Homo sapiens: one gene and its partner. The protein of the gene in region 2 purifies or fractionates together with the protein of the main gene of each other region. This does not show direct contact. Each region holds a gene or a part of one and is shown on either strand. Other genes may lie near its edges. The genes, in order: TRAPPC9 and CRTAC1.

Evidence for each region.
Region 1: the proteins of CRTAC1 (region 2) and TRAPPC9 purify together in Homo sapiens (affinity purification with mass spectrometry; 2 studies listed by BioGRID and IntAct, with this or other methods). This does not show direct contact.

The regions. Positions count from the first base shown.
Region 1 is NC_000008.11:139,726,992-139,730,565, reverse strand, and holds the end of TRAPPC9 (trafficking protein particle complex subunit 9), read left to right. Parts: 3' UTR 1-2,841; downstream 2,842-3,574. UniProt on the Homo sapiens protein: Functions as an activator of NF-kappa-B through increased phosphorylation of the IKK complex. May function in neuronal cells differentiation. May play a role in vesicular transport from endoplasmic reticulum to Golgi.
Region 2 is NC_000010.11:97,894,572-97,898,385, forward strand, and holds part of CRTAC1 (cartilage acidic protein 1 isoform A precursor), read right to left. Parts: intron 2,421-3,814; coding exon 2,338-2,420; intron 1,415-2,337; coding exon 1,314-1,414; intron 843-1,313; coding exon 674-842; intron 1-673.

The DNA of each region.
Region 1 (3,574 bases), on a different chromosome or scaffold from region 2:
GACCCCCATGGGCAACTTGGCAGGAGAGATGGTGCCGTAGGAGGTCGTGGATGGTTGATGCCAAGAGAGGCCCTCCACCCGTGGTGGGCAAATGTCCAGGCCTGGGCTGGCAGCCCAGGGCTGTTTCTGGGTGCTCCCTGGCCCCAGGGTGGCGTCTGGTTACCATGGCTGTGTGTGTCCATGTCTGCAAGCAGTTCTTCAATAAATGGCCTGCCTCCCCCTCCCTGCCTCCCTGCATCTGCTAGCCCAGTGCAGTCCGGGGCCCCCACCCAGCCCGTCAGCCCCCACCTCAGGTGGCTGGCTTCCCAGCAGAAGCCGGACCCAGGAAGGGACGGGTTCTGAGTTAGAGATCTCACATAAGCAAACGCTGAGACAGGAATCTGGTCACCAGCAGCTTGTCTGGGAGGTGGAAGGAGGCCTGCAGGGGAGGGAGATCACCAGTGAAGGAGTGTGACTGGGCCCGAGCTGCCGCCACAGTGGGCAGCTGGCCCTGCGTTCCTCAGGGAGGACCGGAGAGAGAAAGCACACGGCTCACATCTCCCTTGAGGGCCAGAGCTGGGGTGTGTCTACACTACCCACAAGAGTCCTGTTCTGGGGGCAGGCTTCTGGCTGTGTTGACCCTTAGCTCCCCAGGTCCCAGGGAGGATAAACAGCCCTTGGTCCCCAGCAGATACCAGGCTCGTCAGGTGCCCGTTGGGCACTGAAACTCCCATGGAGTATTGGGGGACAGAGAGCGGGGCTTCCTAAAGGCCAGTTGGCCAAACAGGCAGAGCCAGGAAGTGGCTGCCCTGGCCTCCCATGGGGCAGAGTCATGTTGGCATCAGGAGGCCTGCGGGGCTGAGGGAACTTCCTGAGGACCTGAAGTCCCAGGCCCAAACCTCCCTCGCTGGGAGCAAGGTCACCCTGTGGCCTCCGGCCTAAGGAACAAATTTTTTGTTCCATCTGTGGCCTCCTGTTGTCGCTCAGTGAATGATGGGAGCACACTGTGATGTGGTGTGGGCTGGGGGCATGTGGGGGCGGGTGTCCAGTGGCCCTCAGTTCCTGGAGCTCATTCAGCATCTGCTCGAGGCTCCCCAGGGAAGGCAGCCCCAGAAGGTCTGGCTGCAGTAGGGGGTGGAGACCCCAGGGCGGTCTCTTCAGCCCTTCCGTTCAGGATGCCTCAGCGTAGTTGAGGGCCTGGCCACCTGGGCTGTTTCTGAATGGAACAAACAGCATCCATGTGTGTCAACCTCAACAGAGCCCAAAAATACGCCATTGAATGAAACAACACATTGCAGGATGATGGGCTCAGCCCAACCTCACTTGTGTAGACAATGTCCCCCCAAATTATAAATTTTCTATGCCTCAGAACGTGTCTATAACAACATGTTTAAAAGGTAGAAAGGATACACATCCCCTGTAGAAGAGTGACCTGAACTGGAGTTGCATTTGACATCTGATGTCAGCATGAGGGTGCTGGTCACCGGGGACTTGAGTACGTACTTTCCTTTCAAAAGCACAATAGATCAAGATACAGGTACACACATAGCTACAGATATAGATCCAGCCACAGATCCAGATTAGATATAGATGCATATAGAAGCCTAGAAAAGCCAATATGGAAAACTCTGGCAGTGTTTGATTCTGAGTGGCAAGCATATTGGTGACTGTAATTATTTCTTGCAGTTTTCTATATTTTTTAGTTTCCCAAACTGCAAAAAATACCCACAACAGTTACCAGAGAAAATGCTGGATGCCACAAGAAGGAAGAACCTCAAGGGGCAGGAGGCAAAGTTGTCTTCTTGGAGGAGGGGGTGTTAGAAATAACCCAGGCCTCCTGGAAAATGACCCAAATACAGCCTGGCTCTGCCAGCCCCAGGCCCTTCCCCACCCCCAGGGCACCCTTTCTGTCCCAGTAGAGAAGGTGACCTGGAGTCAGGCCTTGTGTGTGCTCCAAGCGTTTGGAGCTTTACCGTGGGATGTGGGGAGCCAGGGGTGTTGTTTGCTGGCATTTCTGTGGCTGGGTCTTTCTGGCTGTGGAGCTGTGTTTGTGGGCAGTGGCTGAGATGGAGGACCTGGGGCAGGTGTCTCAGTGACAGCGCAGTATCCTCCAGCCTCTTCCAGGGCCCCACGCTACTGGCTACCTGGCAATACAGTCCAGCAGTTGCTGCTTCTCTAGGCCCCTGGTGCATTCAGAAACCTCCTGAAGGCCAGCGGAGGGTAAGCCAGGAACAGATCATGTCCATTGCACTTCACTAGCTGAGCGAGTTGGTTCTGCCCTTCTGATCCTTGGTCCCTCAGGGCCAGGACAGGCCCGGTGACCCCATAATCATGCAGCCGTCATGCTCCGTCATCTGAAATTCACAAGGAAGGCAAGGATTCAAAGGAAGATGTCTGAGATGCTGAACTCCAGCTCAGCCACTTGTCAACTCCTTGACCTTGGACAAGTTACTTAAATTAAGCCTTGATTTTTTTTCATCTGAATAAATAGAGATAAAAATACTTATTTCATGGACACTTTCATATCAGTTTATTTGATTTAACCTCCTAGATTTTTTTTTAGCACATGATAGCAACTTCTTAATAAATACTGGGTCCCTTCTCCTAGCCTTCCCATTGCTGTTCTTTTTAATTCCATCCACATGTCCTGTGCCTGAAATATCCTGTGCCATGTGCCTGAAATTCCATTCTTCTCCTGGAACCCTTAACAGGCCACATTGCTATGCTCCGTTAGTCCCCTGCATGGCTTAATGTATTAGGTAACATGAAGCATGTAAGGAAGAACTTTCTAACACAGGTGCTGAAATGGGACAGGAAATGCTGATGGAGTGAGCTCTTTGTCAATAGAAGTATTCAAGCAAAGTCCGGACCTGTAGATGGTTTCAAAACATGTAAGCATCATTTGGGGCTTCTGAGCCTACCAGCCAAGAAATTGTCAATGATGACTTGTTAAGAGGTATTTCTGATCCCAGTAAGCAGGGAAGAGAGAGAGATGTATGTGACCACATGGCTCTTGGGGCCTCAAGCAATGTCTTAAGACACAATAAATTTTGATCAAAAAAGGCTTTCAACATGAAGGGCTAGAGATCTAGACTAAGGGTCTAGGCTAAGCCTCTTACTGAAAACACATTTGTAAGTGCATCCATGACCCGGCAGGAGAGTCAGAAATATTCACCCCAGTACCTGTGTGTAGGCAAAGTCCTGGGAGGTGAGCTGTGCACTGATGCCAACTTCCACTTTGAGGGGTTTTGCCAAAGCTGGAGTATCAATGTCTTCAGCCTTCCAAAACTGGAGGAAAGATGACAAAGCTCAGGGCCCACTGGCTGGGGAATCGAATAGATGACTGCTCCGCATCAATTTGAGAGCCTAAAGATTACACCTTTAGTAAAGGATGAACTAAAAATAATCCTCTTCCCACCCTACTAGGAGAGTAGATATAACACTTCCCTGTCTTGACCCTTTGATTCCATCTTGACCCTTTGATTCCATATTGACCCTCCCATGAATTTGCAGTCCCAAATTACACTCCCTAACTGCCTCTTCCAAACCTTAAGTTGTTAATTAATTTCAAAGACAGACAGCACTCCATAATACA
Region 2 (3,814 bases):
ACTTTTGGTAGAGATGAGGTTTCGCCATGTTGCCCAGGCTAGTCTCGAACTCTTGAGCTCAAGGGATCCACCTGCCTCAGCCTCCCAAAGTATTAGGATTATAGGCATGAGCCACTGTGCCCAGCCCCTGATGCTTTTACATATATATATATATATATATATATATATATATATATATATATATATATATATATGATAGGATTTTGTCATCCCCCTGCCCTTGCCAAGAACCCACTCTCTCCCCTTTGGGGTGACTTCACTCCCGTTGAGAACGCATGGTTTCCCAAGCCTTCTGTCCAAGACTGAACCAGCTCCCAAGAGGCCAGGGAAACAGCTGGTTTGGACACGTTTGGTGCAGCCCAGCATTTGAACAAGCCTACAGCCTTGAACAAATGGAGGATTAAACACTCTGACCCCAAGGTGAACTAATTCCACAGAGGCACTGGGGTGGGGACTCCAGCAAGTGAGATGCATGAAAATCTAACCAGCACTTCCCACTCGCCTCTTCTTGAGCTCAGGCTCATCTCAGAGTAGGGTTTGTCCCCAGTAGCTGGTGTCCACCATGGCTGTCACAGTAGAGCGGAGCGGTGCCCAAGGATGCTCGGGCTGTGAGTCCCTGAATCAGTCAGCATCCTGATAACAGCTCACTGTCCCCCACCGGACCCCGACTCACCCAGGCCAAAGTGTGCCACGGGCTCCATCTCACACAGGTAGCCTGAGCCCCCGTCGATGATCCTCAGGTGGGCCCCACTCTTCTTGGTGTAGAGCACGACCTTAGCTCCCCTGGCAAAGGCCCCAAACCGGGTGCGTGGCACCACTCGCAGCCAGTTGTTGTTGAAGCCCTGCAGAGAGGGTGAGAGGCAGACACCCGGTGGGCATCAGCATGGTGGGTGGGAAGAGCAGGGAGCCAGGGAGGACGGGAGGGGGAGAGGGAGAAGAAGGAGGAAGAGAAGAAAGCAGGCAGAGGAAAAAGATAGAAACAGGAAGCCAAACAAGAAAAATGAATGAGGCGAAGACAGATTGGCTGAATGAAGGAGAGGCACTGCAGACAGAGGAGACAAAAGCCGAGGGACTCAGGGCACAGTGTTTGGCAGATAAATGATACTGGAAGGCAGAGAGGCAAGGGCTTCTCCCAAGGCGGCCCTTCCTGAGCTTCCCGGTGCTGCTGGAATTTACTTCCCTCCTCCAGGGCCCGGGACTTCCATTACCCACCATGCTGGCCAAGCCAGCACCCCGGCACCTTGCCCTCACCAACTCAAGGTACCCGAGAGCACACAGGGCTGGGATCTGTGGCTCCTGAGGTCTTAGCGCACCTGATTGCCCCGGAAGACGGACAGCGGCTGAGCCATGGACTCTCCATGGGACAAGATGAGGTCCAGCATCCCGTCTCCGTCGAAGTCGGTCACCACACCCCCTACAAACAATGCAGATTTCACCTCTGGCCGTAATCCAGGAGACCCACAAAGGAGACACGCTCCCAACCAAGTGCAGTATCCACAGCCCTGGGCGTGGGAGCCAGAGAAAGCACAGCACCGGGGCAGGAAGGCTGGGGCTTGGCACCCATCTCCTATCCTTCCTAACAGCAGCCTCATGATAGGACTCACGGGACAGACATTTCCTTCCTTCCCCTGGTCTTTGCATGGAGAGGGTGTGTGCAAATTACTCAGACCACATGGTCTTCTTTCTGGTCTTTCTATTATGGTTTGAATAATACACACCTGTTATATTTGCACAGGTTTTTTTTTGTCAATTTACCAAGTGTTTGCATATACATAGGCTCCTTTTGGTCGTCATTACAACCCAAAGAGGTGAAGAGGGCAGATATAATTATCCCCATTTTATGAATGTGGAGAACAAGACCCAGAGGGTAAAGTCACTTTTCCAAGACCACAAAGTGAGGCAATGGCAGAGCTGGGTTCTGGGACCCCTGGCCCAGTGCTCTGTCTGACAACAAGCTGAGTGCCAAGAGGGGAGGGGTCAGATGGCAAGATCCTCTGCCTGAGAGCAGAAGGGGCTCTCTCCTCTCCTTTCCATCCCCACCTGGCAAGGCATGGCCAGAGAAGCTCCTGCCCACAGACCCACAGATTCCCATTCCCCCACCCCCCATCAGCCTGGGATTGGGGGAGTGGACCATCCTCTCCTCTGCTTCCTGCCTGGCCATCCCCAGGGTTCTCCCATCTCCACTCTCACCCCTGCCCTTGAGTCTCAGCCCTCAGTGTGGCAGGGACAGGAGTGGCTCTGCTGTGGGACTGGCTGCCCCGTCCCTCCCGCCCTCACCCCAGTGTATGAACAGTGCTAAGGGGGCAGTGCAGGCCAGATCCCCCAGGTGCCCCTCACCTGTGCCCCGGCCCTCAGGCTCCAAGGCGTCGCCGGGATTGAGCTCCTCGATGAGGGGGTCTCCGTGCTCTCTACGGATGACGCTGCAGGAGAGGAGACAGGCTTGCTCTGGTGGGGTCTCAGAGGCCGCTGGACCAGAAGGCCCACCTGCTCCATTCTGTCCCCTGAGCATCCCCGGGTCCCAATGTGCATGGGCTACCACCTGGCTGCCCACGGAGCCACTCTCTGCTCCCAGGCCCTGCCTATACTCTGCCTGTTCCCTGCCTGGGTTTTAATTTATGTTGGTAAATATTGATTTTTCCTTCTCTAATGGATGAATTATAGGCAGCCTGGGGAAGGGCAGTTGATGGATGAAGAAGGGGCAGGGACACAACTACCTTCAACCAACCTTCCTTGTCCTTCAAGTGGCCCCTGGGTTTCCTAGTTCTGGATGCTACCCAGGGTTTAACCCCACTCAATGCTACCTCCTCCATGCCCTCTTGGACCATCCTGCTGGAAGCAATCCCTTCTTTCTTCATGGGCTTTATTACTTTCTGCCTGTGTTACAGCTCTGTATAAATGCATCTGATCTCCCCTGGTAGAATGTGAGCTCTCTGCAGGCTGGGACCTTGCATTGTTCATCTTTGCTTCTCTTGCAGTATCTAACACAGTGCTTGGCTCTCAGAAAGCTCCAAGCACATGTCTGCAGGATACAAAGGTGAATTCCAGAGGCAAAGAGAGGAAAGGGGTCCCTTTGGGTTGCAGCGGTTCTGTTTGGAACTCTGAATCTTGATGTTATTTATTTCAGAAACGTCTGCTAGAAAAGTCCTGCTCTTTCTCTGCACTCAGCTGATGATGGCAGTGAGCTTTCCTCTAGAATTTTTCTCACTTGGTGTATTCTCACAGCCTTGGGTGCTCTGCCCTAGATGTGTGGGGCAATGATGGGAAGGTAGGGTGTAAGGAAGAATTGGCATCGCACTTCCTACCACATTGCAGGTTGCATGTGAGAAACACCAGAGGGCCGTGATACAGTCATAGCTTCAGGAGGGGGTCGGAGTCCCCTGAGCTGGAGCCTTTGGTGGCTGGGTGGCAGAAAGAGCTGGCAGATGCCCCATGAGGTGGGCTTGTGTGTTGGTGTGCATGAGTGTGATGCCCACAGTCCCTTTGACCATATGTGTCCTGCAGATTCTGCCACAGCTGTGCAGAGACACTTCTTGGTTCAGGTGACAATGCAGTTAAGGAGTCCTAAGGATAACACCCAGCAATCAATTCCACTGTATTTCTGTGTTCATTGAACACATTCTTAGGCAGCAACTATTGTGTGCCGGGCCCTGCGTGAGGTATGGTGCACAGCAGAAAGGATGGAGCTCAGAGTCCGTGTTAACAGGAACCACCGTTCAGAGGGCTGAAGGCCTAGGGAGAGTGGGTCATGGGGAGTCCAGAGTTGGGGAAGCTCACCCAGATTCGGGCAATCAGGGAAGTCTCCCTAGAGGAAGGG